4 linked regions of the Homo sapiens genome follow. The protein of the gene in region 2 purifies or fractionates together with the protein of the main gene of each other region. This does not show direct contact. Each region holds a gene or a part of one and is shown on either strand. Other genes may lie near its edges. The genes, in order: YBEY, SSH3, JMJD4 and ANGEL1.

Region 1 (8,909 bases), on a different chromosome or scaffold from region 2:
AAAACCTGACAAATAGAGCTGGGGAAAGCTATGAAGAGAGGATTCTCATACTTCCATGCCTGATAACAAAAACTGTCACTAAAGATGGCAAAAACTGCAACAAAGGCTATGACAACCTTACACACATACAAAACTGCAACCTTGCACAAAGGCTATGACAACCTTACACACACACACGAAACTGCAACCTTGCACAAAGGCTATGACAACCTTACACACACACAAAACTGCAACCTTGCACAAAGGCTATGACAACCTTACACGCACACAGAAACTTCTGCAAGGATAATCTGCCCAGCAACTGCCTGTCTAACCTTGGACGGACATTAATCTTGTTATTGATCTTTGCAACCAAGGATCATTATCTCAAAACAATTATGTTTTTTTCCTTTAAAAACCTTTGCCAGGCGGGGCTCAGTGGCTCACGCCTGTAATCCCAGCACTTTGGAAGGCAGAGGCGGGTAGATCACCTGAGGTCAGGAGTTCTAGACCAGCTTGGCCAACATGGTGAAACCCCAACTTTACTAAAAATACAAAAAAAAAAAAATTAGCCAGATGTGGTGGTGGGCGCCTGTAATCCCAGCTACTCGGGAGGCTGAAGCAGGAGAATCGCTTGGACCTGAGAGGTGGAGGTTGCAGTGAGCCGAGATTGTGCCATTGCACTCCAGCCTGGGTGACAGAGCAAGCCTCCGTCTCAAAAAAAAAAAAAAAAACAAAACCCTTGCCTTCCTTTACCTCCCTGAATATGCGAATATCCACACAGTCTACTATGGCATGTGGCATGTATTTTCACTGCAATGCTCTATCCCAAATAAACATCCTTTTCTTTAAAAGCCTGTTTGTTTAGGTTGCTATCACCTTGTCAAATGGCTTTTCATTTCTTTCATCCCTCCCAATGCAGAATCACGCAGATCCACAACTTCTACAGAGTTAAATCATCACATGGACACGACTGTATATTCCTGTTCTTTCCACTTGGTATTTTGTCCTAAAGAGTCTTTCACATTTTCCACATAAAGACTATAAAGACCAGTCCACTTAGTTAAGGACTGTTCACACTAAGCCAGTCACCTATGGCTGGATATTTAGGATGCTCCTCTTATTTTCCTATTACAGAAAATGGTAACTTTTTTTTTGAAAAAGGGTGTTACTCTGTGGCCCAGGGTGGAGTGCAGAGGTGCAGTCTTGGCTCACTGCAGCCTCAGTTTCTTGAGCTCAGGCGATCCTCTCACCTTAGCCTCCTGAGTAGCTGGGACGACAGCTCTGCACACCACCATGCCCGGCTAATTGTTGTTTTTATTTTTTGTAGAAACAAGGTTTGACCATGTTGCCCAGACTGGTCTTGAACTCCTGGGCTCAAGTGATCCTCCCACCTTAGCTTCCCAAAGTGCTGGGATTATAGGCCCAGCCAATAAATTAACATTTCAATACATTTTTACGTGATTCAGCATTTTCTTTTCTTCTTTTTTTTTTTTTCTTTTTGAGACGGAGTCTCGCTCTGTCGCCAGGCTGGAGTGCAGTGGTGCAATCTCAGCTCACTGCAACCTCCGACTTCCTGGTTCAAGAGATTTTCCTGCCTCAGCCTCCCGAGTAGCTGGGATTACAGGCAAATGCCACCACACCCAGCTAACTTTTTTTGTATTTTTAGTAGAGACGGGGTTTCACCATGTTGGCCAGGATGGTCTTGAATTCCTGACATCGTGATCCACCCACCTCGGCCTCCCAAAGTGCTGGGATTACAGGCGTGAGCCACTGCACCCGGCCTCTTCTGCCTTTTGGTTTATTGTCTTGGGTGTGTCACCACAGGACTAAAGGATACATGTGTTTGAAATGCCAAGTTGCTTTCCCAAAGGATTGCTCCAATTCCTGCTGCTACAATGTGGGAAGCCTTGAATGAAGTCATCTACAGAATGTAGATAATAACCTGACTGCTATTACATTGAGTTTGTTGGAAATATTTACCCCAGTCTGTTTATTTTCAGTGTTGTTTTAATTTTTCCAATGTGCACATATTCATTAACGAATCCCACTTAAAACTGCAAAAATATTGCAGAAGCAGTTTGCTTCTCTCTTCTAATTCACTGAGAGCATTAGGAGGGGAAGGGGGGTGGACGCTAGTCACCTTTTTCTTTTCTTTTTTTTTTCCTGAGACAGAGTTTCGCTCTTCTTGCCCAGGCTGGAGTGCAATGGTGTGATCTCAGCTCACTGCAACCTCCATCTCTGGGGTTCAAGCGATTCTCCTGCCTCAGCCTCCCAGGTAGCTAGGATTATAGGTGCCCCCCTCCACCTCCCGCCCGGCACAACCACACCCAGCTAATTCTTTGTGTTTTTAGTAGAGGCAGGGTTTCACCATGTTGGCCAGGCTGATCTCGAACTCCTGACCTCAGGTGAACCACCCGCCTCGGGCTCCCAAAGTGCTGGGATTATGGGTATGAGCCATCGCGCTCGGCTGTCACCTTTCTTTTTCCTGCTGGGTTACCAGTGTAATTGTAGACTCTGGGTGATGGGCCTCGATCAGTGGAGGCTGAATATACTGCTCTCTCTACTTTTGTGTATATTTGAAAATTTTCAAAATTAAAATTAAAAATCATGTCTGTAACATATATACTTATAGGCACCATGGAGCCTAGCCTATAATATAATTAATACATGAAATTTAGGCCGGGTGCTCTGGCTCACGCCTGTAATCCCAACACTCTGGGAAGCCCGAGGCAGGCAGATCACCTGAGATCAGTTCAGGAGCAGCCTGGCCAACATGGTAAAACCCCCGTCTCTACTAAAAATACTGACAAAAAAAAATTAGCCAGGCGTGGTGGCCAGCATCTGTGGTCCCACCTACTGGGGAGGCTGAGGCAAAAGAATCACTTGAACCAGGAAGGGAGGTTGCAGTGAGCCGAGATCGCACCACTGCACTCCAGCCTGGGTGACAGAGCAAGACTCCGTCTCAATTAAAAAACAAAACAAAACAAAACAAAACGACAGGAAATTTACTCTGGGAAGATGGGCTAGACAAGAAGAGGAACATTTTTTTTTTACCTCATGAAATGGAAAAGAAAGCACATCGGTTGGGACATTTCTATCTCTGTAGATTCTATTAATGTGCTGAATATTCTTGTTGTCAACACAGATGATCCCCAGGTCAAATTTCTGCACTCCTAAAATCCTCCTTACAATCTCGATCTTACTGCGAAGTGGCGCTCTCCTGATGGGGATGACTCGCTGCAGATTTCTAATCACCAAACTCATTTCAGGAAGAATAACCAGCCCTTTAAAAATGTTTGCAACGGAACCTGGGGTTAAAGTGTAAGAGAAGACCAATCAGTACAAGTGATAATACGGTCTGTAAAAATACAGATGCACGCGCAATCAGATCACTTTATTTGGTGGAACTGATTGAAAATCTTAAGGGAATTTACATTTACCACAAGGAGGAAGCAACAACGAGGGTCTATGGAAGGATGCCGCGGAATCCGGCCAGAAGGACTCCAGGCGGGCGGAGCGGAAGGAGCGGTTCCCAGAGAAAAGGGGGCGGGTTGGGGGTGCGCGCGGAGAGAGGCGCGCGGACGCGGCGGGGTGCGGGGAGGGGCAACGGCTGGGGAGAGAAGGGGCTGGAATGGGGGAGGGACAGGAGAGGGGACAGGTAAGCGTTGGGGGCCGGGTCCTCTGGGGTCTGGGGCGCCCGCAGACCCACGCGGGTGAATGCGACGCTCTCGCTTGGGAGACTAAAAACCCGCCCGGACGTACCGGTGTCTGGACCCAGCAAAGGACGCGAGAGCGGGCGGACCCTCCCGACCGGAAGCCCCGCCACAGAGCGGGTTGTGGGGAGCGGAACCGGATCGCAGCGGGCGGGGCGGAATCCGGTAGTGCTGAGCGAACCGGAAGTCGGTCCGCGGCGTTTTCTGCCCGCGGTGCGCAGCGCTGAGTGTCGCGGCAGCAGCCTGTGCTTGCGCCTCAAGTCTTTCCGAGGGGCCAGTGGGCAGCGCGGGCCTCGGGGTCCTGGGGCGAGACGGTGAGCGTGGGGGCTGGGCCGGCGCCAGGGGCGCCGTTTCCTTCCCCCACGCAGCTCCGCGCGCCCGGGCCTCCACATCGTCGCTAACGGAGCGTTGCGGCGCCGGCGACCCCTGGCGAGCCCGGGGCGGGACAGTGGCCAGGCCGGCCTGGGCCCAGCGCGTGGCCTCCGCCGTTTCGGGCTGTGCTGGGTGGAAGATTAGGCTCCCCGGGCACGCCGTCCCCGCCGAGAGGCCTCAGCTTCGTGGCAGCGCCCTCGTCCTTCCAGCCCGCTCGAGGGTGGCCGCCAGGGCGCGATGAAGGAATGTGAGAAAGTGCTTAGCGCTCCAGCCGCTCCGAGGGAAGCCAGGTGGGAGGAGATCCCGAAACGCTAAGGTTTTGACAGCGTTACAGTGAATTCTCCGGCTGTAGAGATTGGAGGAAGTCGGGAGAAATTCGTCTCTAAGTTGTAAGGTGGAACAGCATTCATTTTCTTACTGCCAATGGAGGTTTTTCATGAATTTACTAACTCAGTAAAAAGATTCGGCTTTTTTTTTTTTAATCTTAAAGGATCACGCTTTAAACCTCTGTAACAAAGTAATTATTTGTACCACTCTCTACCCCACCCTCCAACAAAATAACCTATCGGCTCTCAGAAAATAATAACCCTTTGCCTGCCTTTGAAATAGTTATCCTTTTAGTATGACAGTGTTCAAAAATTCTTTTCTTAGACTTGTAGCAGAACATAGCTATGATGATCTGAATTTTTCTCTTTCAGCTTGTTCTAAAGACGAAGGGGAACTCCCTAGTGCTACAGGCTGTTTCAGGAAGCCAATTAATTTTGTACACATAATACTTAATTACCTTCTAATAATTGGAGCAGAAGATGAACCCAACTAATCCTTTCAGTGGGCAGCAGCCTAGTGCTTTTTCGGCGTCTTCTAGTAATGTAGGAACACTTCCATCTAAGCCGCCATTTCGATTTGGTCAACCTTCTCTTTTTGGACAAAACAGTACCTTATCTGGGAAGAGCTCGGGATTTTCACAGGTATCCAGCTTTCCAGCGTCTTCTGGAGTAAGTCATTCCTCTTCAGTGCAAACATTAGGGTTCACCCAAACCTCAAGTGTTGGACCCTTTTCTGGACTTGAGCACACTTCCACCTTTGTGGCTACCTCTGGGCCTTCAAGTTCATCTGTGCTGGGAAACACAGGATTTAGTTTTAAATCACCCACCAGTGTTGGGGCTTTCCCAAGCACTTCTGCTTTTGGACAAGAAGCTGGAGAAATAGTGAACTCTGGTTTTGGGAAAACAGAATTCAGCTTTAAACCTCTGGAAAATGCAGTGTTCAAACCAATACTGGGGGCTGAATCTGAGCCAGAGAAAACCCAGAGCCAAATTGCTTCTGGGTTTTTTACATTTTCCCACCCAATTAGTAGTGCACCTGGAGGCCTGGCCCCTTTCTCTTTTCCTCAAGTAACAAGTAGTTCAGCTACCACTTCAAATTTTACCTTTTCAAAACCTGTTAGTAGTAATAATTCATTATCTGCCTTTACCCCTGCTTTGTCAAACCAAAATGTAGAGGAAGAGAAGAGAGGACCTAAGTCAATATTTGGAAGTTCTAATAATAGCTTCAGTAGCTTCCCTGTATCATCTGCGGTTTTGGGCGAACCTTTCCAGGCTAGCAAAGCAGGTGTCAGGCAGGGGTGTGAAGAAGCTGTTTCCCAGGTGGAACCACTTCCCAGCCTAATGAAAGGACTGAAAAGGAAGGAGGACCAGGATCGCTCCCCAAGGAGACATGGCCACGAGCCAGCAGAAGATTCGGATCCTCTGTCCCGGGGCGATCATCCTCCAGACAAACGACCTGTCCGCCTGAATCGACCCCGGGGAGGTACTTTATTTGGTCGGACGATACAGGATGTTTTCAAAAGCAATAAGGAAGTAGGTCGTCTGGGCAACAAGGAGGCCAAAAAGGAAACTGGCTTTGTTGAGTCTGCAGAAAGTGACCACATGGCTATCCCAGGAGGGAATCAGTCTGTCCTGGCACCTTCCCGGATTCCAGGTGTGAATAAAGAGGAAGAAACTGAAAGTAGAGAGAAGAAAGAAGGTGAGCTCTGAAAATGTAGCACATAGAGTAAATCCTGCAGGCAGGTTTTCAATACGTTTCTCTGGGTGTTAGCTTGATTTTTCAGATAAATCTCCCATAAACATTAGGGATTCTAACATGTCATCGGAGCAGGTCTTACATCTGAAAATTTCCTCTGCTTCGACACAGTTGGTGCCTCCTGTTGTTGGAAACATCTGATGGTTTAAGTGTCCATTCTCTGAACCCCTAGATTCTCTAAGAGGAACTCCGGCGCGTCAGAGTAACAGAAGCGAGAGCACAGACAGTCTTGGGGGCTTGTCTCCCTCTGAAGTCACAGCCATCCAGTGCAAGAACATCCCTGACTACCTCAACGACAGGACCATTCTGGAGAACCATTTTGGCAAAATTGCTAAAGTGCAGCGCATCTTTACCAGGCGCAGCAAAAAGCTTGCAGTGGTACATTTCTTTGATCATGTGAGTACTCCCATCTTGCCATTTGTTACCCTAGATTTGAACCTTGTCACTTTAAAACCTGTTTTTTTTTTTTGGTCCCTCAGTTGTTTGCTTACTATAATATAGAGAAAGTACTCAAATATCTTATTAGCATAGGCTGGGATAGCACTATTTATTTCATAACTTGGCATATTCTAGGTCCCTACAGAATATAGTACTCTAGAAATGCTGGGAGAGTTGTTCTCATGAAGTGAAATTCTTCTGAAAGGCTTTAGAAATTCAGAAATTCTTCTGAAAGGCTCTAACCACATAGTACTTTTGGAAGTTGAGTTTTTTGGTTTTGTTTTTGTTTTATTTGGTCATAGAAGATGATCGCTGTAAACGTTCAAACAATACAGAAAAAGTGAAATTGGCCGGGCGTGGTGGCTTACGCTTGTAGTCCCAGCACCTGGGGAGGCCAAGGTGGGCGGATCATGAGGTCAGGAGATCCAGACCATCCTGGCTAACACGGTGAAACCCCATCTCTACTAAAAATACAAAAAATTAGCTGGGTGTGGTGGCTCGCGCCTGTCATCTCAGCTACTCGGGAGGCTGAGGCAGGAGAATTGCTTGAATCCGGGAGGCGGCGGTTGCAGTGAGCCGAGTTCGTGCCACTGCACTCCAGTCTGGGAGACAGAGCCAGACTCCGTCTCAAAAAAAAGAAAAAGAAAAAAAGTGAAATTCCCCTTGTCAGTCTGTCCTCTAGAGATAACTGCTTTGAAGCACTGGGTTTGTATCCTGACTTTAAATGTATGCATAATACTTTCTTTTTATTTATTTATTTATTTTTTTGAGATGGAGTCTTGCTCTGTCACCCAGGCTGGAGTGCCGTGGCATGATCTCGGCTCACTGCAAGCTCCACTTCCCGGGTTCACGCCATTCTCCTGCCTCAGCCTCCGGAGTAGCTGGAACTACAGGCGCCCGCCACCACACCCGGCTAATTTTTTTGTATTTTTAGTAGATACGGGCTTTCACTGTGTCAGCCAGGATGGTCTCGATCTCCTGACCTCACGATCTGCCTGCCTCGGCCTCCCAAAGTGCTGGGATTACAGGCGTGAGCCACTGCGCCCAGCCTAAATGTATGCATAATACTTTCTAGGGTGCAGTGAACGTGGACTGCTTATGTTATATAGCTTTATATCGTCACTATTTTTTCTGAGTATTCTCATAGACAAAATTACGTTCTATAGGAATTTATAAAGTATAAATTTATAAAGTGAATGATACTACATTGAGTGGATGGACTACGTTTTGTTGATTCGTCTGTTGGCAGACGCGGGTTGTTTCTACTTTTTGGCTATTGTGAATAATGTTCATTGGCATATGACTTATTTGAGTCCCTGCTTTCAGTTTTTTGGGGTATATTCTTAGGATTGGAATTGCTGGGTCATATGGTAATCCTAATTTGTTTTTAGTTTTAATTTTTTTAATTAAAAAAAGTTTGTATTTTTACATTTGTATAGATGGGGTCTTACTGTGTTGCTCAGGCAGGTCTCGAACTCCGGTCCTCAAGCTGTCCTCCTGCCTTAGCCTCCCAAAATGTTGGGATTACAGACCTGAGTCATTGTACCGGCTCTCATTTTTGTTGTTGTTGTTTTTGAGACGGGGCCTTGCTCTGTCTCCCAGCCTGTATTGTAGTGGCGCAATCTTGGCTCACTTCAACCTTTACCTTTCCAGTTCAAGCGATTCTCCTCCCTCAGCCTCCCAAGTAGCTGGGATTGTGTGTGCACCACCATGCCTGGCTAATTTTTGTAGTTTTAGTGGAGAGGGGGTTTCACCACGTTGGCCAGGCTGGTCTCGAACTCCTGACCTCAGTGTTCCACGCACCTTGGCCTCCCAAAGTGCTGGGATTACAGGCGTGAGCCACCATGCCTGGCCTTGTTTTTATTATTTATTACTACTATTTATTTTATTGTTATTTTATTATTTATTTATTTTTTTGAGATGAAGTTTCACTATGTGGCCCAGGCTGGTCCTAAATTCCTGGGCACAAGTGATCCTCCCACCTCCACCTCCCAAAGTGCTAGGATAACGGGCATGAGCCACCATGCCCAACCCCCTTTTGTTTTTACAGTTATTTTTTGCCTGTTGCAATGTGCTTATTTTCCCAGCTGAACCTTAAATATTTTATGACATAACTAATATGTAAATAGACTGCCTTTATAAACAATTCATTGATACAGACAAAACTGAATATCCTCATCTCTCCTGTTACTCAGGAGCAGTCCAGTTAACTAGTGTGATGTGTATTTTTTTAGACATTTTTATGAGTGTATCTACACGGAGACTAACGTGGTTGGTTTTGTGTGTGTTTTCTGTGGTAAGTGGCATCCCATGTGTGTTATT
Region 2 (7,620 bases):
GGAGGACTCCAGCCCCACGGAGGAAGGGAGTCCAGGTGGAGCTGGAGCGCTCATGCTCAAATACTTGTGGAGACAGCTCGCCGTCCTCAGCAAGACGTGGCAAACAAGATGCAGTGAATCTTTGGTAAAACTGAATTTACAACAGAAGTATCATCCCCTATCGTGAGATTTTGTCCTTAATATTTCTTTGGTGATAAACATTTCTCAAATGAAATGATAGCATTTGCAAGTGACAGGGTAAAAAAAAAACAACAAAAAAAAACTGGCCGGGCGCGGTGGCTCATGCCTGTAATCCCAGCACTTTGGGAGGCCGAGGCGGGCAGATCACGAGGTCAGGAGATCGAGACCATCCTGGCTAACACGGTGAAACCCCGTGTCTACTAAAAACACAAAAAATTAGCCAGGCGTGGTGGCGGGTGCCTGTAGTCCCAGCTACTCGGGAGGCTGAGGCAGGAGAATGGCGTGAACCCGGGAGATGGAGTTTGTAGTGAGCTGAGATTGCGCCACTGCACTCCAGCCTGGGTGACAGAGCAAGACTCCATTGCAAAAAAAAAAAAAGAAAAAACCTCCTTCTTGCTGGGCACAGTGGCTCACGCCTGTAATCCCAGCACTTTGGGAGGCTGAGAAGGGAGGATTGCCTGAGTCCAGGAGTTCAAGACCAGCCCAAGAAACATAGGGAAGATCTCATCTCAACAAAAAACTTAAAAATTATCTGGGCATGGTGGCATGGGCCTGATGTCCCAGCAACTTGGGAGGCTAAGGTGGGAGGATCATGTGAGCCTCGGAGTTCGGGGCTACAGTGAGCTGTGATGGTGCCACTGTACTCCAGCCTGGGCGACAGAGTGAGACCCTATCTCAAAACAAAAACAAAAACAACCTCCTTCCTCAGCAGAAACAAAAAATGTGCAACCTATGTCAGTCCCATTCCCCGCTTTTTTCCACACAGTCCCTCTTTACCCACTGATTTTACATCTGGGAAGAGGGGGGATGGGAGAGGAAGGAGCAGGGTCAGCACTGTTCTGGGCCTGGGGTGTCTAGGTGGGGAGCAGGGTCCTTGGGGCCACTGTGACCCTGGGTTCCTCATCTCCCCCCAGGCAGCCCAGCTGGAGGCACCCCGGCCTCCCCGGCTCCGCTACCTGCTGGTAGTTTCTACACGAGAAGGAGAAGGTCTGAGCCAGGATGAGACGGTCCTCCTGGGCGTGGATTTCCCTGACAGCAGGTTCGAGCAGGGAGAGGAAAGGAGGGGCAAAGAGGTGAGGGACAGGGGGGACAATGGCTTTCCCTCTGTCCCCTGCCAGCTCCCCCAGCTGCACCCTGGGCCTGGTCTTGCCCCTCTGGAGTGACACCCAGGTGTACTTAGATGGAGACGGGTAAGCAATGGCAACTGGAGGTGGGGGCTGGAGGGTGGAATAACTGAGTGTGACGGATGTGACGGGGCCTGGGCACCAGGGTACAGTAGAACTTTAGGCTGGGACTCTGGGGCCTGCTCCCAGCTCCACGTCAGATTCACCGTGATCCTGAGCAAGGCACCTGACTCCTGGGTCTCGGCTTCCCGTATCCAGCAAAAGGATGGGTTCTCTGTCGCAGAGCCTGGAGTCTGGCCTCACCTGTGCCTGGTCTCCTGCAGGGGCTTCAGCGTGACGTCTGGTGGGCAAAGCCGGATCTTCAAGCCCATCTCCATCCAGACCATGTGGTAAGGACAGAGACTGCCTGGACTCAGGCCAGCCTCTCCTTCGAAGGAGGCTGCAGGGCCTGGGGAAGGGCAGCAAGGGAACAGTGTGACCCAGCCTCTCCTCCTGTCTCAGGGCCACACTCCAGGTATTGCACCAAGCATGTGAGGCAGCTCTAGGCAGCGGCCTTGTACCGGGTGGCAGTGCCCTCACCTGGGCCAGCCACTACCAGGAGAGACTGAACTCCGAACAGAGCTGCCTCAATGAGTGGACGGCTATGGCCGACCTGGAGTCTCTGCGGCCTCCCAGCGCCGAGCCTGGCGGGTCAGTGTGTGGAGGGGAGGGACTGGGTGGAGGGGAAGGCAGGATAATGCAGTGGGGGGCATGGTGGAGAGGGGAAAGGGCCCCTTGACTGAGGGGCTCTGCTCCCAGGTCCTCAGAACAGGAGCAGATGGAGCAGGCGATCCGTGCTGAGCTGTGGAAAGTGTTGGATGTCAGTGACCTGGAGAGTGTCACTTCCAAAGAGGTGGGCAGGGGGCCCGGGGACTGAGTCCCCTCTAGCAGGGGCTGCAAGCTTGCCTTTCCTGGGAGCCCTCCCCACCTTGCCTGTCTCCAGTCCTGAGCCATTCCTGGATGCCTTGGCCTTGGCCCTAATCCATCTAGATGGGATAGGGTGCTGTCCTCAGAGGTCCCAGAGGGAAGGTGGCAGGTTGGGCACTAGGAGAGCCCCAGCCTCTCTTGCCCTGGGCTCTGCCTGCAGATCCGCCAGGCTCTGGAGCTGCGCCTGGGGCTCCCCCTCCAGCAGTACCGTGACTTCATCGACAACCAGATGCTGCTGCTGGTGGCACAGCGGGACCGAGCCTCCCGCATCTTCCCCCACCTCTACCTGGTGAGCTTCAGCCAGGCCTGGGCCATGGGGACCGCTGGCAGCTGTGAGGGCGGCAGGCCAGGAGCAGAGGCTGGAGGAGAGGAGAAATGTGCTGTTCCCTCTCTCCCAGGGCTCAGAGTGGAACGCAGCAAACCTGGAGGAGCTGCAGAGGAACAGGTAGGGCTATGAGCCCCTCGGGCCACCCACCCCATCTTCCCTTCTCCTGGCCTCCCCGCATTGGGTGGTAGCCAGCTTCAAAAACCCCTGGACCACCCTCAGCAGCTGCTAGCTCTGCTTCTAACTCTGTCCTGGGGCTGTTGCCCTGGTGTGGGCTCCCAGGTGGGGACAGGAGACCTGCTGGCCAGCCCCCGCCCACTCTCCTCCCCCATCCACACTGTGAAACAAGGACAGAAACAAAGGGCCTCAGCCACGCCAAGACGAGAAGCAGCAGCGCATACTGCTGTAACTGCCTTGGACAAGCAGAAAAAGGCTCCTCTTGAATGCGCCTGTGGGCCCAGCTACTTGGGAGGCTGAGGCAGGAGGATCGCTTGAGCCCTGGAGATTGAGGCCGCAGTGAGCCGTGATCACGCCACTGCACTCCAGCCTGGGCAACAGAGAGAGACCCTGTCTCTAAAAAATAAGAAAAAAGAAAGAGAGAAAAAGCCTTTTCTCCACCTTGCCCTGTCTCAGGGAAGAAGGAACTGCCCTTCTCCCCGTGGGGACCTGGCTGCCTGCTCTGACAGGTACCTGTCATCTGCCCACCATGGGCTTCTGGGACCTGCTGTAGCCCCTGCCACCCACTGCTGCAGACCCACCCACTCTCAGCTTAGCTCAAAAGCTGTTCTCTAACTCATTTCTGAGAATAACTGAAGGGCTGGAGTTGCAGTTGGCCCAGCTGTCTGGACCAGATGGGGAAACAAGCCCAGCAGGGCAAGATGATTGGTCTAAGGTCGCAGCCAGGTGACAGCTGGGTCACTTCTCCTCCCACTGTCACTGCTGCCTCCATCTGACTTGAAACTCAGAGCTAAAGCGAGGCCCAGGGGCTGCCAGGTCCGATTGCCAGTGGGCCTGGTACCTCTGCCCACATCAGCCTGGCCTTGGGCCCTCTGGGACAGGGTCACCCACATCTTGAACATGGCCCGGGAGATTGACAACTTCTACCCTGAGCGCTTCACCTACCACAATGTGCGCCTCTGGGATGAGGAGTCGGCCCAGCTGCTGCCGCACTGGAAGGAGACGCACCGCTTCATTGAGGCTGCAAGGTCGGTCTCCTGGCTTTGCTGCCTGCCCCACTGTGGCTTCAAGCGGCCTCCGGTGCCCTCCTCCTGCCCACTCTGCCATCAGCTGTGCCATTCCTTCCAGCCCTCAGTGTCCTTCCCTCCTTCTCTACTCTCAGTTGGTTGTGAGCCCTTCACCTGCCCTCCCCTGCAGGAGGCGGGATCCTTCATGGTGAGGGGAGGGTGCTGAACCTGGCCTGCTTCCACAGAGCACAGGGCACCCACGTGCTGGTCCACTGCAAGATGGGCGTCAGCCGCTCAGCGGCCACAGTGCTGGCCTATGCCATGAAGCAGTACGAATGCAGCCTGGAGCAGGCCCTGCGCCACGTGCAGGAGCTCCGGCCCATCGCCCGCCCCAACCCTGGCTTCCTGCGCCAGCTGCAGATCTACCAGGGCATCCTGACGGCCAGGTATGGGATGGGAGCGAGTGGCAGGGGGTGAGTAGGTGGGTTTGCTGGGGGTGGCTGCTGGGTCACTCAGAGCTGACTCAGGGCCACCTCCTCACAGCCGCCAGAGCCATGTCTGGGAGCAGAAAGTGGGTGGGGTCTCCCCAGAGGAGCACCCAGCCCCTGAAGTCTCTACACCATTCCCACCTCTTCCGCCAGAACCTGAGGGTGGTGGGGAGGAGAAGGTTGTAGGCATGGAAGAGAGCCAGGCAGCCCCGAAAGAAGAGCCTGGGCCACGGCCACGTATAAACCTCCGAGGGGTCATGAGGTCCATCAGTCTTCTGGAGCCCTCCTTGGAGCTGGAGAGCACCTCAGAGACCAGTGACATGCCAGAGGTGAGGCTGGGGCTGGGGGAGCTCAGCTTGCAGGGGTGGGGGCCATAAGGAGGGAGATGGGGAAAGACCAGGATGGGCGTTTGACTGTAGACCTGAGCAGGGCGTACCCGGGCTAAGTCTGGCCCGCCCATGCAGGGTGTCCTGGGAGGACCCAGGGGGCCTGGTCCCAGCCTCCTTCACAGTCAGCCCAGTATCTCTTAGCACCCGGCGTCTCCAGCCTGTCCCATGAATACCCCTGAAGATGGGGACCAGCCACGTCCTGGGCCCCTGAGAGCAGCTGAGATCCAGTGAGGGCAGGCGGAGGCACTGTAGGCACAGGCTGGAGAGGGGTCACGGGGGCAGGGCAGGAAGCAGTGCCTGTTTCCAAGGCTCCTGGGTGAGCCAGCCCCAGCCTCGATCGCGGGCAGGTTCCAGCCTGACCACAGGACTAGCTGTCTCAGGGGCAGGGCTGCCTCCCCAGGCCATGAGCTCCACAGGCCCCTGCAGGCCCTGGGGGCGATCTCTAACCCCATGGTGGGGAGGCTAAATTAATCTCTGAAGCCCCTCCCTGGTCTGAGGAGCAGCACCTCAAAGGATGGGGTGGGGAGGAGTCTGCGCACTCACGCCGCCCAAGTCCTGCCTAAGTCAGCACCCTTGATGCTCAGTGCTGCGGGCACAAGCCTAAGCCTGGGAGCCAGGCCCTGTCTGGGACTCAAGGCCAAATGGCTGACTTGGAGGAAGGAGCATCCACTGAGGGCAGGAACATTTGGGAGAGGCTTCCTGGAGGAGGTGTGGGTGGGGAAGGATAGGGAGGCGTGGTGGGTTGATGGGCGGGTGTGGGCGTTGCTAAAGGCAAGAGGTCCTCACCCAGCACCGGACGCACGCATCCACCCAGCCCAGCTCAGGGGCTGGTGCCGGCACGGGTTTCACCTGCCGGCTGCCTACGCAAAGGCAGAGAAAGCATAGGAGGGGAGGAGGGCAGGGAGGCCTGGGTCTCCAGGGAGCTGAGGAGGGCTTCTGGGGGCCAGAAGGAAGCTACAAGCAGGTAGGGTTCAAGGAGCGGGGCAGCAGGGCTGGGGTGTTGTCCTCCCTCCCGAGGAAGCGTGGCTGTGGACAGCTTGGCTTTTGGCGTGCGTGCCACAAACATTCCGGCCCTCGCCTCCTCCTGGCTCTGTGCTTGGCACCCCTGCCCCAGATCTTCCCGGCTCTGTGCTTGGGCACCCCTGCCCCAGAAAGGCCTCCCATGGCTTCCGTATCCTCACACCTGTCCAGGTCTTCTCTTCCCACGAGTCTTCACATGAAGAGCCTCTGCAGCCCTTCCCACAGCTTGCAAGGACCAAGGGAGGCCAGCAGGTGGACAGGGGGCCTCAGCCTGCCCTGAAGTCCCGCCAGTCAGTGGTTACCCTCCAGGGCAGTGCCGTGGTGGCCAACCGGACCCAGGCCTTCCAGGAGCAGGAGCAGGGGCAGGGGCAGGGGCAGGGAGAGCCCTGCATTTCCTCTACGCCCAGGTTCCGGAAGGTGGTGAGACAGGCCAGCGTGCATGACAGTGGAGAGGAGGGCGAGGCCTGAGCCCTCACACATGCCCACGCTCCCCTGACACTGAAGAGGATCCACAACTCCTTGGAGAAACACCCTCACGTCTGTTGCCGCACACATTCCTCTCAGCTCCGCCCCATACCCGTCACTACAGCCTCACCTCCCACCCCTGTCACTACGGCCTCACCTCCCACCCCTGTCACTACAGCCTCACCTCCTACAGCCTTAAGTCCCAGGCCCATGTCTGCCTGTCCAAGGGCTCAAGACTTTCTAACTGGGATGTGGTAGAGGGACTGAAGGTACCTTTGGGGGCAACAGCACCCTAGTTTCATTCTCAACTCTAGCCCTGCACACTCACCTGTGGCACGGAATGAAAACAGAGCTTCCCGTGCAAAAAGGGTCACGCCTCCCACCCCCGCCCCCTCCCTGCACCTCCTGTCCTCTCCCAGTTCATTCCTGGAACCAGCCAGGCCAGGCAACCAGTGGCCCCCAAAGGCAGGCAGGATCCTCAGGCCCCAGCCGCGGGAGGCTGGAAGGGCTGGCAGATCGCTTCCCTCATCCACCTCCACCGGTCCAGGTCTTTGCTGCTGTCCCCAGACCTCCTGTGACACCACGCCAGATCACAGGGCACCAGGCCAGAGATAGTCTTCTTTTTGTCCTTTCTGGCCTCTGGCTAGTCAGTTTTTCATAGCCTTACAGTATCTGGCTTTGTACTGAGAAATAAAACACATTTTCATATTTGGTTATTTTCAATGTGACGATGAAGCCATCTGTGTTGCAGTCAGACCCTTCTCTGCTGGCTGGGGAAGGTGGCCGCCCCTTCCTCCCAGCAGTCTCCTCACAATTCCAAGGTGGCTCGTGACAGACCTATTTGGGGGAGTGCCGTGTTTGGGCGTGGCGTGGGAGGAAGATTGGGTAAGAGAAGAGAGGAAGTCAGTGCTATCTCCCCATCTCCTGGGGCAGGGCCTGGTAAATATGACCTGCTCACACCCACCCGCTCAGACAGGTCGGGCAAGGGAAGAAGTCGTCAGCGGGCAGCAGGCATGTGGCTCCACTGTGAGAGCTGGAAGGGGTTACTCATGAGGAAGTGCCTACCTGGACAGGACCAAGCCTGTTCCAAAAGCGAAGCCTCCTTGGGACACTCGGCGCCAGGTTCTCTGGCATGTTTTGGGTCCCAAGAATCACCTTCCTCCTGCTACAAAGCAAAGGGCCTGACTTTCCAAGCCAGGCTATTGCGGCCTGGGAAGAAGGACCCTTGGTGACACTTCCCCTCCTGCCCAGGGGTTCCTTCTGCTCAACTTTAGTGTCCAAGAAGAGTTAGTCATTCCATCTTTTTTTTTCTTTTTTTGAGACAGAGTCTGGTTCTGTTGCCCAGGCTGGAGTGCAGCGGCACGATCATGCCTCAGTGCAGCCTTGAATTCCCAGGCTGAAGAGACCCTCTCACTTCAGCCTCCTGAGTAGCTGGGACCACAGGCACACCTAGCTAAGTGGTTGTATCTTTGTCACTTC
Region 3 (8,832 bases), on a different chromosome or scaffold from region 2:
TCTCTCAGTCTTTCCATTATATGTGTGCCCCCTGAATGAGACTCAATCTCCAGGAAACAATCTACTTTTAGTTACTTTCCACAGTTCCACCATCCAAGGCAGTCCTCCCTCCCTCCACACCTGGACAACATCTCAGGCAACCTCCTGACCTCATCCTGTCCCCATCACCCATTCCCCCTCCAGCAGTCAATGAGATAGTCATTGAACAGAATTAGAATATGTCACTTCTCTGCCCAAAGCCTTTCCCTGTGTACTTGGAATGAGATCCAAGTTCCTTACCGCAGCCTCATGGACTCTGCAGGACCTGCGGCCTCCCTGCCCTGGCCTTCCCCTGCCCTCTGCTCCCAGCAGCCTTTCCACACCAGGGAGTCTCATTGGTGGCTCCACTCCGCAGGTCTCTGTTCGGAGGGCTTCCTCGCCTTCCTAAGGCACTGTCACCAACCATGGCCCAAGCAAAACTCCAGAGAGTTGGTGCTTTCATGACTGTCGCACTACAGAAGGCACTATCATGGGAGGGCCGCAAGGCCCGCTACACACCATGGGCACCCAATGAATTTGTGCTGAGTTGACCACAACCACACCACATGGAAACAGAGCTGTGCCTATGCCCTCCTGTACCACATAGTTCTGCAATCAGTCCAGGTCCTGGAGCCCTCACGGTGTCCCTGCCTGTTGCAATCTGCAACCTCCTTCCTCCAGTGCAGGTGTGGGCCTGGGGACCCGCGCTGACCCTGAGAACACACAGCTGAATCCTCGAGGGAGGTCATGGCCAGGGGCCCAAGGGTGTCTGCAGCCAACCCACACAAGTGACGCTCTTGGGGAGGAAGTCTGCAGCACAGGGATGGCTCAGCACGCAGGGCGATCTGTACAATGGGTCTCTTTCAGCATTTCCATCACTCAAGGGTCCCCTGAGTGAGGCTCAGTACCCAGTAAACAACTTATTTTTAGTTAATTTCCGCAGTCACAGAACAAACATCTTGCACACCTTCCACTACCTCGCAACCAAGAAGCTAAGTGAGAACAGTGGTGGCTGTGTGTGCCCACAGGGGCGGTAGGGTGCGGCCAATCTTTCCAGGCTCCCCTCCCCTGCTCCTCAGACCCTCTTTCCACTCCCTCAGAGGTTCCCAACTCTAGCCACAAAGTGCAGACACCCTCACTGGGGCTGTTTGCATGCAACACAGTGACAGAGGAGCACATATTCGGCACAAAGCGTACTGCATTTTCTCCAAAGTGCTGACTTAAAACCCGTCCTGGCCAGGCACAGTGGCTCATACCTGTAATCTCAGCACTCTGGGAGGCTGAGGTGGAGGATCACTTCAGCCCAGAAGGCAGAGGTTGCAGTGAGCCAAGATAGCGCTATTGCATTCCAGCCTGAGTGACAGAGGAAGACCCCGTTTTAAAACAAAAACAAAAAACCATCCTAATGGAGTATTGTGTGGGGCCCAAGAATGTGGATTTCTTGCCATTCCCAAGCGATGCCAGGGCTGATCTAGCGGGCTCTGGGTGACACAAGCCTATGTTCCAGTCCCATGAGAGCTGATAACACTCCAGGCCTCCTGCGTATACAGTGGTGACACTGACCCGAGGGGGCACCCTGCGGACCAGCGAACTAAACCACAGAGTTCCATCTCAAGAACGAGAGCTCCATCTCCCACCAAGTCCTAGGGGCTCAGTGATCTCAGGGAGCTGTGGACCTGCTAGCCCAAATGCTCCTTTCTTAGGAAACAGGCTCAACCACGGAGCTGCAGGAACTCCTTCCAGGCAATGCCCACCTGAATTTCAGTTTCCCCATGAGGCAAACTCGGAACCATATTCCAAGATCTTGAGACAATTATAAACACTCTGCTCCCCACATCTTCCCCATTGGCCTCCCATGATCTGCATGCACCACAACCAAAATCAAATGACTACTAGCAATTAAGGAACAATATGTGGCAAGATCAATTAAGGTCAATTAATTGTCAATATTGAGGTCAATATGTGGCAAGATGTTACAGCATATTGTTAAATAAAAAACAAAAGACTAAAAGCAGCAAAAGTTTATATATGTATATTATACACGATGGAGAAAGAGACTGTGTATGTGTGAGTGTGTGTGCATACATGTGCGTGAACGTATAGGCAAGGACTGGGGGGAGAGAAGAGTGGAGAGAGAGAATGAATGAATGAATGAATGTATGTGTGAAGGAATGTAGAAAAGCCGGCTCTACACCAGGAATAAAAAACGGTCATCTCGGCTGGGTGTGCGGTGGCTCACGCCTGTAATCCCAGCACTTTGGGAGGCCGAGTCGGGCAGATCACAAGGTCAGGAGTTCGAGACCAGCCTGACCAACATGGTGAAACCCCGTCTCTACTAAAAATACAAAAATTAGCTGGGCGTGGTGGTGCGCGCCTGTAATCTTCGCTACTCAGGAGGCTGAGGCAGGAGAATCACTTGAACCTGGGAGGCGGAGGTTGCAGTGAGCCAAGATCATGCCATTGCACTCCAGCCTGGGTGACAGAATAAGACGCGGTCTCAAAACAGCAAAAACAACAAAACAAAAAACAAAAAACAAAAAAACCAAAAAAAACCAAAGCAAAAAAACCCCAGTCATCTCTGGACGGAACTGGAGGTGATTCTTTCTCTGCAACTGTAACTTCTCCAGACATTCTGATTCTCTAGTGTAAAAAAAACCCCAATAAACAATTGCATACCGTGATCACACAAGCCACAATAGGGCTGACTAGGAAGGGACCATAGCACGCACTGAATCACACAATCCCCAAAACAACTCTCCGCCTCCTGTCCCTGCCCTCATATCCCACCTTTACCTGGACTCAGACTCCCAAAACTCACTTTCCTCCTAGTCCTCCCTCCAACTCCTCAGACCTTGGTCCTCCCTCTTCTGCTCCTCCCTGTTCTCCTGGGTAAACCTCACACCCCTTGGAAAGAGTCTTCCAGCAAGGCTCAGAGCCCCAGCACTCCTAGAACCTCCCATATCCCCACTTATAAGAGTAAATAAAACAACATTTCCATTGCTTCATAAAGGGAAGGCAGGTGCCCCTCTCCCGCTTAGGATGCCTCTGTTTGGTCTGGAATGAGATAGCCCAGTGTCCAGATTTTACAAGACACAGTCATGGTCTGATGGCCCCTAGAATGTCATCAGACCTCCAAACCTAACTCAAAGGCCTCGCACTGTGTGCAAACCAGCACAAGCTGCCTCTCATTTCTCTGGGAGAGATGAGCGGTTCTAACTGTTCCTCCTTCCACCTCCCTGTCAAGACGCCTGGGAAATGCTGCCCAGACTCTGCACTCTCTCGCAGAGCACCTATGTGCACACAGCCTGCCAGGCTTCGGGGGCAATAAATCTGCTATCTTTCCTTCTGCATCCATGTGGGTAGCTTTGAGCTGATTTCTCCAGCACACCAAGACATACATCACATAGGGTCCCCCATGGCCCCACTTTCGTGTCCTGGCCGAAAATCACAGAGTACCCTGATCCCTCTGTGCCCCAACCACAGGTTTTCCCCACCAGGCTTCAACCCAATCCAGGGCCTTTAACATTTCCAGGCATGGAAGAAAGTATCTAGGTTTACTACAAAGAAAACGGCCTTGGCCCTGAGCCAAATTCCTGAAACCTTCCTATAAACTCCATAACCCACACCCCTTCCAAGAGACATACCTAGGGAGGACATCCCTTTTCCCTTACTGCCCGTCTCGAGGACTACCGCAGCCCACTCTATATGAAAGTTCCCCTAACAAAACCTCTAGGCAGGGCCTGGCGCAGTGGCTCACACCTGTAATCCCAGCACTTAGGGAGGCCAAGGCAGAAGGATTGCTTGAGCCCAAACGTTCAACACCGGCTTGGGCAACACAGAGACCCTGTCTCTACAAAAAAAAAAAAAAAAAACAAAAACAAAAAAACAAAACTAAGCTGGGCATAGTGGCTCATGCCTGTAGTCCCAGCTACTTGGGAGGCTGAAGCAGAATTAAAGAATTCATCAAGCCCAGGAGGTGGAAGCTGCAGTAAGCTGTGATGGTGCCACTGCATACTGTCTCAAAAAAAAAAAAAAAAAAAAAAAAAAAAAAAAAAACTGCTCTGGGCTTACCATGCATTTAGCACTTCTTTCTTTGGTATCCCAACTGGTCCCACCTGAGGATAGTGTGGGGAACTCCCTTGCCGCCACTTTTGGGGTAACTCCAGTTGCAAGTTTGGCAAAACACTCCTCATGTCACTACTCCGATGTCCTCCCACTTCAGCCCTGCTCATGTGTACACAGCCCCAAATCCCTACCCACACTCCCACCACACCTTCATTTCACACCCTCCCTCATTCCCCACCATCTTCTCCAGACACCCGTCATCCCCTGGGGCCCCTTGCCATGCCCTCCAGGTCCCCTGTGGGCCCCATTCGCCCATCTAGGTTACCCTGCCCCCTCCAGCCCTCCCACCATTTTCCTCCAGGTCCCCACCATCCTCTCTAGATCCCATGTCCCCTCCAGGTGCCACTGATCCCTCCAGGAACCCACTGTCCCCATCCCTTCCAAGTGCTACCGTCCCCTCCAAATCCCCACTGTCCCCTCCAGGTCCTCAATGTCCCCATCTCCTCCAAGTGCCACCGTCCTCTCCAGGTCCCCACCGTCCTCTCCAGGTCCCCACTGTACCCATCCCCTCCAGATCCCACCGTCCTCTCCAGGTCCCCACTGTCCCCATCCCCTCCAGGTCCCACCGTCCCCTCCAGATCCCGTCTCCATCCCCTCCAAGTGCCACCGTCCTCTCCAGGTCCCCACCATCTCCTCCAGGACCCTACCATCTCCGCTAGATCCCACCATCCCAGGGCCCCCCAGCTCTCCCTCTGGGTCCCACCGTTCTCTCCGGGTCCCATCATCCCTGGGCGCCCCCGCACCGCCGCACTCCCGCCCCCAGAACCGCCTCTGTCCCCGCCCCTCTCCCAGCGCAGCCCGCATACCCCCCACCCCCCGGGGATGCGGGAAGGAGGGCTCGGGCTGTGTCAGCCACAGCGCGCGGACTGAGCCGAGGGCGGACGCTACGGCTTGGCTTGGGCCGGGCGCCCAACAGACCAACACCGTCGCTCACCTGAGGGACGCCAGACGAGTCCCAGAGCCGACCGCGGCGCCTCGGCCGCTCGGCGCCTGCGCAGTGAAGACCGCGGCGAGCCGCGCGCATGCGTGCAGGCCCGGAGCCCCAGGCGCTGGCGGGGCAGAAACGCGGCGCCCTGCGTCTTCTGGTTCCGAGGCTGGTCCTCACCGTTTCCGCTCCGGCGGAAGTGAGGAGGAGGGTCCTTCGACCCGTGCTGAGCTGGATGGACCGCGAGACGCGCGCCCTCGCCGACAGCCACTTCCGAGGCCTGGGGGTCGATGTCCCCGGCGTCGGCCAGGCTCCGGGCCGGGTAGCCTTCGTCTCGGAGCCGGGCGCCTTCTCCTACGCCGACTTTGTGCGGGGCTTCTTGCTGCCCAACCTGCCCTGCGTGTTTTCCAGCGCCTTCACGCAGGGCTGGGGCAGCCGGCGGCGCTGGGTGACGCCCGCGGGGAGGCCCGACTTCGACCACCTGCTACGGACCTACGGTGGGGCGGCGGCCGCAGACCCCGGGCGGGGAGGAAAGGCCGGCGGGACCCAGGCCCGGGAGGCCCCCGCCTAGAGAGGGGCACCAGGGAGGGTGAGGGAGGCCAGGCGCGTGGCCCCTGGAGAGTTCCTCTGCAGACGGTTTGGAGTGAGGACGGGGCCCAGGGAGATGGCATGGACCGTGCCTTTCATTTCAGGAGACGTGGTTGTACCAGTTGCAAACTGTGGGGTCCAGGAATACAACTCGAACCCCAAAGAGCACATGACTCTCAGAGACTACATCACCTACTGGAAAGAGTACATACAGGCGGGCTACTCCTCTCCCAGGGGCTGTCTCTACCTCAAAGACTGGCACTTGTGCAGGTAATGGGGCTTGGGACGCACCGAGGCGCTGCCTTCCCTAGCGCTGCGTGAACCCAGAGGCCTTTCTGATGAAGGTGGCCCCTGGGTGCACAACGGAGCTATTTTTCCCCGTGAGGCACTTTAATCAGTTTAAAAGAAACTGGATTGTCTTCCGCATGGCTGCAAGTGTTGTTCTTTGGGAGGTCAATATGGTTTTTTTTCCTTTTTTTTTGAGAGAGATCTCCTCAGCCTCCCTAGTACCTGGGATTACAGGAAGGCGTCTCCACTCCCGGCTTTTTTTTTTTTTTTTTTTTTTTTTAAAGAGACTAGGTTTCACCATGTTGCCCAGGCTGGTCTTGAACTCCTGAGCTCAGGTGATGCATCCACCTCAGCATCTCAAAGCACTGGGATTATAGGCATGATCAGTACTTTCTAATAAGCAGAACCATTGTAGTCAGACTGCCCCGCCCCCTCCCCCGCCAGCAGCGTCTGGCTCAGAGGAGGGTCTGGGGCTCTTTGGGGGCTGCAGCCATCTGGAAGCTCCACTGGAGCCGATTGGTCTCAGTTGCCCCACTCGTGCTGCCCTAGTCTCCTCGTGCCTCACGTGCTGTCGGTGGTGCCCTTGCGCCCTCCTCACAGGGACTTTCCGGTGGAGGACGTTTTCACCCTGCCTGTGTACTTCTCGTCCGACTGGCTGAATGAGTTCTGGGATGCACTGGATGTGGATGACTACCGCTTTGTCTACGCGGGGCCTGCGGGCAGCTGGTGAGGCCACGGATGTGGGAGTGGAACCCGAAGGGGCCTGGTGACAGAACGGACTGGGAGGCCCAGGGTGGCAGGAGGGGGGCTGCTTGGCACAGGCCTCACAGTGGGTGCCATCCCTTGAGACCAAGGGGCCACCCCTCCTTCAGTTGGACCAGGCCTCTGGGGTGCCAAGCAAAGCCCATACCAGCCCCTACAGGCATGAACCAGGCGCTCTTGCTGCCGCAGGTCCCCGTTCCATGCTGACATCTTCCGCTCCTTCAGCTGGTCTGTCAATGTCTGTGGGAGGAAGAAGTGGCTCCTCTTCCCCCCAGGGCAGGAAGAGGCCCTGCGGGACCGCCACGGCAACCTGCCCTACGACGTGACCTCCCCAGCACTCTGCGACACACACCTGCACCCACGGAACCAGCTTGCTGGCCCACCCTTGGAGATCACGCAGGAAGCGGGCGAGATGGTGTTTGTGCCCAGTGGCTGGCACCACCAGGTGCACAACCTGGTAATGTGCTGCTTCTCCTGCCCCCTATCAGGGGCCTTCCTGCAGGAAGACGGCAGCACCACCTCCCCACTCTCCCAGCCAGAGCTGGGCTGGAATGGGGTGGCTCATGGGTGAGGCTGACCCCTTCACAAGGTGGTGTCGCTGAGGCCTAGCCTCTGTTTCACCCACTGCCGGTCCCTGGGTCTACTTGCTCTGGGTTCACTGTGGCCTGAGGTGGTCCGAGCCCGCCACCCACTTCCCTGCTGAGCAAGCCCTGCTGGGAGACAGGAGGGCCCTCTTGGCTGCAGAGGGCTGGACCCCACAGTGGGTTCCTGGCGCAGGAGATGTGGGTTGGTCAGGGGGCACCTGCCATGGGCTCAGGCCTGCCTGCACTGTGCCCCTTCCAGGATGACACCATCTCCATCAACCACAACTGGGTCAATGGCTTCAACCTGGCCAACATGTGGCGCTTCTTGCAGCAGGAGCTATGCGCCGTGCAGGAGGAGGTCAGCGAGTGGAGGGACTCCATGCCCGACTGGCACCACCACTGCCAGGTGGGGTGGCTACGCATGGAGGCTACCCTCCTGGGGGAGGCTTTTAGGCTGCATGGCTCAGACTCCCTTGGTCACCGCGCAGCTTCTCAGTGCCTCTGTCTTAATGGTCCCTTCTTCGTCCTTGGGGACTGGGCGCATGTCGGGTCCTTTGCAGCTTGGACTGTGTCCATGGTGTTAGCTCACTGGCCTCTTCCCTCTGCCCAGGTCATCATGAGGTCCTGCTCGGGCATCAACTTTGAAGAGTTTTACCACTTCCTCAAGGTCATCGCTGAGAAGAGGCTCCTGGTCCTGAGGGAGGCAGCCGCTGAGGACGGTGCTGGGTTGGGTTTCGAACAGGCAGCCTTTGATGTTGGGCGCATCACAGAGGTGCTGGCCTCCTTGGTTGCGCACCCCGACTTCCAGAGAGTGGACACCAGCGCGTTCTCACCACAGCCCAAAGAGCTGCTGCAGCAGCTGAGAGAGGCTGTTGATGCTGCTGCGGCCCCATAGCACCTGTCGTGAGGATAGAAGGACGGGTGGAAGAGAGGCAGCCTCCTGCTCCGGGGCCCTTCCAGAAATAAAGACCGCCCTCCCTGTGACCTGGGGCCCACCCCTGTCGAGGCTTGTGGCCTGGCTGTTCATGGCCACTGCCTGGGTGCCTGTTTTCAGGTGAGGCCCAATGAGGTCAGGGACCCAAGATGGGATGTGGCCCTTCTGACCTGCAGCAGGCCTGCTGGGAGCTCGGAGATGGTGCCAGGACCTGGCTCTTTTGGGGGCCCTGCCTCCTTAGGCCAGGACGCCTGAGCTGACAGGAGTCTGTGTCTGGTGTGCCTTCTCTGGTGGCTCCTCTTAATAGGCCAGCCCTGTCCCCTCGTCTCAGGCCATTGGACCACCCCTGGCTCTGCCCTGTGGGTTCAGGGAGGGGTTGGAGCAGTGCTGGGCAAGCTCACCAGGGCCTCCAGGCAGGGCTGGGGTTGGCCTCCATCACCTCCAGGTGATGGGCTGTGGAACCAGCGGCCTGCGCCTTCCTCTGGGTACCCAGAGTGGAGGGCTGGGTTGGGCTGGCCTTTGCCACCTCCCTGCCTTTGCAGGGCCTGTGGACAGCTGGAGAGGCCACAGATGGGGTGGAATCCCATCTGCTGCTGAATCCTCACCTG
Region 4 (4,431 bases), on a different chromosome or scaffold from region 2:
AAGAATTTTAAGTGTAGGCTCTGTTCTCTCCACAGCGAGCTGAGGCTTCAGGCCTTAGGGTCATAGGAGCTGACTGGGGATGGGACAGAAGTGCAGAGTTCCCTCCACAACCCATGAAGTCCACATTCTCTTGCTTCCAGCAGATCTGCACCCTCACCACCATGCTGCCATCTGGCTGGCCCATACCTGGAACAGTCTTGTCTAGCACATTTGCTCAGGAGGGAGAGGAGAGGGGATGGACCAGAGTGATGGGAGCCCAGGGCTGCAGGGCAGCTCCCCCTGGTGGACCCTAGAGGTGGCCCCTCCCACTCCTGGGAGAAGAGAAGCCACACTGTGCATTTCGCAGCCAATCAAAACACAACCCTCCAATAGAGGGCGGAATGGGGTTACCAGAAGCTGGGAAAAGCAGGGGAGGAGAATGAAGAGCAGGTGGATGGTACAAAAATATGGTGAGGACTAAGTTCTAGTATTTGATAGTACAGTAGGGAGACTATAGTTAACAATTTATTGTATATTTCAAAATAGCTAGAAGAATTGGAATGTTCCCAGCACAAGGAAAAGATAAATGCTTGAGGTGATAAATGTCCTTAAATATCCTGACTGGTCATTACACTTTGTACGCATGTATCAAAATACCATATGCAGCCCCAAAATATGTACAACTATCACATGTCAATTTTAAAAAGGAAAAACAAAACAACCAGAACATTCCTCTAGTTAGTAGCTACAACAGGGCAGGAACTGGAGAGAAAAACAAAACAAAAAAAGCAGCAGCCTCCTGACTGGCCATTTCCCTTCTTGGTCTCCAGTTAAAAGCTGCCTCTGAGCTCCCCCAGCCCCAGGCCCCCACCACCAGCCTCTGCCTTCCAAGATAACCTGTCTTGCCTGATCCTGGAAAGGCTTGTGAGAAACTTGGGGTGGTAAGAAATAAACCAAAGGAGATTCTCAAATTCTATCTCTGGGATTTCTGTTTCCTCAGGTGTAAAGGTAGAATCTGAACACCACCTAAACTGCCACCACACAGTGCCACTGTCTTTGCTAGCTGACGTGGAAGTACTGTGCAAACTTAACAGAAGTGCTGTGGAGATGCTAACTGACTGAGGCAACTAGGAGGAACCCTCCCTGCCAGGAAGAGGTTCTTGGGGATATACCTCAAAGCTTAGGGCTTTCAAATACTTCCTAGCCAATGGGCCCAACTGTCCAGCCTGGCTGGGGTAACGATCTACTCCCAACTCCTACCAATAATTCTCTGGAATTCTTAGCACCTTTTTCTTGCCAAAGCCCAAACAAAGCAATTTCAGATCTGAAAATTCTTCACAAGTAGAAGTGATTATTAACTTTAATTTCTATTTCACCAAGGAATGTGAACTGAAATACAGAGAGGTTAAGTAACTTACCTACAGTCACCAGCTGAACAGGCCAAGAGGACAAATGATGTTTCTAATTCCTAGCTGAGTTTTCTTTCTTTTCTTTTCTTTTCTTTTTTTTTTTTTGAGATGGAGTTTCACTCTTGTTGTCCAGGCTGGAGTGCAATGGCATGATCTCGGCTCACCACAACCTCCGCTTCCCAGGTTCAAGCAATTCTCCTGCCTCAGCCTCCAAGTAGCTGGGATTACAGGCATGCGCCATCACGCCCGGCTAATTTTGTATTTTTAGTAGAGACGGGATTTCTTCATGTTGGTCAGGCTGGTCTGGAACTCTCGACCTCAGGTGATCCACCCGCCTCAGCCTCCCAAAGTGCTGGGATTACAGGTGTGAGCCACCGCACCCGGCCGCTAAGTTTTCTTTTTACTAAATCAATTGAGGGGATCGCAACCCAGGTAGTGCAATGGAAGCAACCAAGTGGCTTTAAATCAATCAGATTCTCAGAGACTGATTCAGAGGCCTGGTGTGGGTTCTGGGAACCTGTTCAGGTAAGACAGAAAACCAGATCTGGTTTCAGGGCTCCCAGTGGGCATGTGGGCTTGGCTGGTCTTACTACATAGGGAGGTTGGAAGACAAAAGCACCAACAGAGGTAGGCCTAGGAAGGAAGAGACATTTTTCCAGCGACAGATGGCCCACTGCTCAGCCCTGGCTCCAGAATGCAAAAGAGATCAGAAATAGATGCTCAGCAAGAGGCATGTGCCACCCGCATCATGTCTCATGCAGCTGCCATAGCTTTAATCAGGAAAACACACATCTTATCCCACTTTGCACAGACCCTCCTGAAGTGCAGAAGATACTAGGAGGAGGCATGGGGGGAGCAGATGGAGGAAGAATGAAAAGCAGTCCAAAGAATCATTCTCTCACTTGGGAAGGACAGAAGAAAGCTGTACCCCAGCAGTGTCAAGGCAGGAGGCTTCACTCAAGCCCTGTTCCTCCCAGGCCTCACAGCAGTGGGAATTTACCTCAGCTAATAGAGGGAGATCTTACAACACATTTCTCAATCTAGATTCATGTCTTGAGACCCCACCCCAAGATCAAAAGCTCCTTAGTCTCTTCCTCTGCCCACCTCATTCTTCAGGCCCTCTCTCAAGGACCTAATCCCTTCAGGATCCTAATAAAATGAACAACATTGGGGGGAAAAAAGGTAAACCTTTATTTGGAAAAAGAGTTTAAATAACAATTTAAAACCCCATTTCACTTTCAAAACAGAAACAAGAAAGCAAGGAAAAGATAATCTATCAAGCATCTGCCCTCTGCTGTGGTTAGCCATTTTAAAGCTGCATTTCCCAGCAGAAGAGAACAGTGATGGGCCCTAGTCCTAGGAACCCACAGGGCACTGTCTTGAGACCCTTTTAGGCAGTGTCCAGGGAACAGACAGACAGAATGAATGGTGGGGTGTAGACAGACCTGGGGCTCAGACAGGCACATGCCCAGTACCCAGGAAACAAAGTTTGAAAATATATACACATAGAAAAATAAATTCCCTAGAACCTAGGCATGGAAAGCTTCTAACCATGAATGCAGCAGCACAATGCAAACTGGGTCTTTGGCTTTCAAAAAAAGGAAAGAACCTTAACCCCTGGCTTACTGTCCCGAACTCAAGTCTCTTGACCACTGTCTTCAGTCCCACTTTGGAGGTCGAGTGAGGCAAGAGCAAGTCAAATCTACCAGGGCCAGCAGCCACTCTGACTTAGGGAGATGTGTGGAGGGGCTGGCCCAGGATCTCCCAAGGCCACACCCCAGCAATGAAAGATTAAGGCATGCAGGTGACACAGTGTGGACTAAGGAGTCCCCTGAATAAGCCAGGGTACCCTTCTGTTAGGGGAGGGAAAGCAGACGCAACAAGCAGCTGAGGCCTTGCTGGACAGAGCCAATCCGCAAGTACTGCCACTTCAAATTCTTGGACCAGTTTTGTCCAAGGCCACCTTTCTGCTGAGGCAGTTTGGCCTGAGCTAAATACCAGGGTTTTCTAGAAAGGAAATGGAAGGGAAGCGGGAGATGGGAGATAGCAGAAAGTAAAAAGTGGTGGAAGGAGAGGAACAGAAAATTGCTTCTTAGGAGTGGAGAGGAAAGAGAATCAGCTTAGGTCTTCAGTCCCAGCTGAGGCAGCTGAAGAGTCTACCTGCTCCTTCCCCTACTGGAACTCCTACCCTTGCCCCAGTTCTGCAGGCTGCAGAGTCCAGTGAAACAAGAGTTTCCTGAAGACTCTTTCTCCTCCTAATCCTTAAATAGTTTTAAACCTCATACCACTACCCTAGCCCAATGAACCCCACATAAGGGTTCAAACTTCCGCCTCCCTCAGGGAAGCCTGGGGAAAGGGATGGCCCTTGTGAAATTACACCAGGTCTGTGGGGAGCTCTGGGTTGGAGGCACAGGGCCAGCTGGGACAGGTAGCGCATCCCCCAAAATTTGCCACTCCAGGATGTGGGCCCCATTTGTTCCCAGAGCCCAGACGCCGGGCCTGCCCTGGTTGGCAGGATGAATGCCTAATGAAACACAGAGGCTAAAAGGAGAGATGGGGCCATGCCCTGCTGCTGCCTGCTCATACATAGGTACTTGGGTAGACTCTGAACCTGCCCCAGGCCTACAGCCCCAACATGAAAAGTGGACTGGTCAGAGGCAGGCATGGCTGTGCAGAAGTCTCACCCCAAGAGGACACATACATGATATGCATATCTCACATATGCATGCCTGGCAAGAGGGCTGGGCCCAGAAGTCCTGAAGGCAGGGAAAAGGTCAGGTCAGAAGGTACATCAAGAAACGGCCTGAAAGCAAATAACCAATGAAATCAAGAACTCCCATAACCCTGGTAATTAAAAATCAAGGGGGAGCGCTGGATACATGGAAGGAAGGGGGAGCCCCCCTTCTGCCTCTCCCAGGGCCACTGAGTGTGTGGCACAGGATTAGGAAGAGGCTGGGGTGGGGCAAGGACCACAGGCAGAGAACGCAGCCAGGCCTGGAGAAAGTCTAACCGTGGGAAAAAGGGAACGAGGAGGGGGAAGGGA

The links.
Region 1: the proteins of SSH3 (region 2) and YBEY purify together in Homo sapiens (affinity purification with mass spectrometry; 2 studies listed by BioGRID and IntAct, with this or other methods). This does not show direct contact.
Region 3: the proteins of SSH3 (region 2) and JMJD4 purify together in Homo sapiens (affinity purification with mass spectrometry; 2 studies listed by BioGRID and IntAct, with this or other methods). This does not show direct contact.
Region 4: the proteins of SSH3 (region 2) and ANGEL1 purify together in Homo sapiens (affinity purification with mass spectrometry; 2 studies listed by BioGRID and IntAct, with this or other methods). This does not show direct contact.

What each region holds. Positions count from the first base shown.
Region 1 is NC_000021.9:46,281,251-46,290,159, reverse strand, and holds the start of YBEY (endoribonuclease YbeY), read right to left. Parts: upstream 3,819-8,909; 5' UTR 3,745-3,818; exon of another isoform or gene 3,417-3,744; intron 3,291-3,416; 5' UTR 3,247-3,290; coding exon 3,037-3,246; intron 1-3,036. Other genes in the region: MCM3AP (germinal-center associated nuclear protein), read left to right, coding at 4,874-6,092, 6,322-6,545. UniProt on the Homo sapiens protein: Single strand-specific metallo-endoribonuclease involved in rRNA maturation.
Region 2 is NC_000011.10:67,305,744-67,313,363, forward strand, and holds the end of SSH3 (protein phosphatase Slingshot homolog 3), read left to right. Parts: intron 1-1,094; coding exon 1,095-1,219; intron 1,220-1,298; coding exon 1,299-1,370; intron 1,371-1,627; coding exon 1,628-1,693; intron 1,694-1,805; coding exon 1,806-1,994; intron 1,995-2,102; coding exon 2,103-2,196; intron 2,197-2,430; coding exon 2,431-2,559; intron 2,560-2,668; coding exon 2,669-2,715; intron 2,716-3,653; coding exon 3,654-3,800; intron 3,801-4,024; coding exon 4,025-4,225; intron 4,226-4,322; coding exon 4,323-4,596; intron 4,597-5,847; coding exon 5,848-6,144; 3' UTR 6,145-6,849; downstream 6,850-7,620. UniProt on the Homo sapiens protein: Protein phosphatase which may play a role in the regulation of actin filament dynamics. Can dephosphorylate and activate the actin binding/depolymerizing factor cofilin, which subsequently binds to actin filaments and stimulates their disassembly.
Region 3 is NC_000001.11:227,731,745-227,740,576, reverse strand, and holds the start of JMJD4 (2-oxoglutarate and iron-dependent oxygenase JMJD4), read left to right. Parts: upstream 1-5,274; 5' UTR 5,275-5,303; coding exon 5,304-5,565; exon of another isoform or gene 5,566-5,760; coding exon 5,761-5,926; exon of another isoform or gene 5,927-6,544; coding exon 6,545-6,670; exon of another isoform or gene 6,671-6,895; coding exon 6,896-7,163; exon of another isoform or gene 7,164-7,549; coding exon 7,550-7,696; exon of another isoform or gene 7,697-7,900; coding exon 7,901-8,185; 3' UTR 8,186-8,832. Other genes in the region: SNAP47 (synaptosomal-associated protein 47), read right to left, coding at 5,078-5,167. UniProt on the Homo sapiens protein: Catalyzes the 2-oxoglutarate and iron-dependent C4-lysyl hydroxylation of ETF1 at 'Lys-63' thereby promoting the translational termination efficiency of ETF1.
Region 4 is NC_000014.9:76,784,688-76,789,118, forward strand, and holds the end of ANGEL1 (protein angel homolog 1), read right to left. Parts: 3' UTR 1,906-4,431; coding exon of another isoform or gene 1,682-1,905; 3' UTR 1,322-1,681; downstream 1-1,321.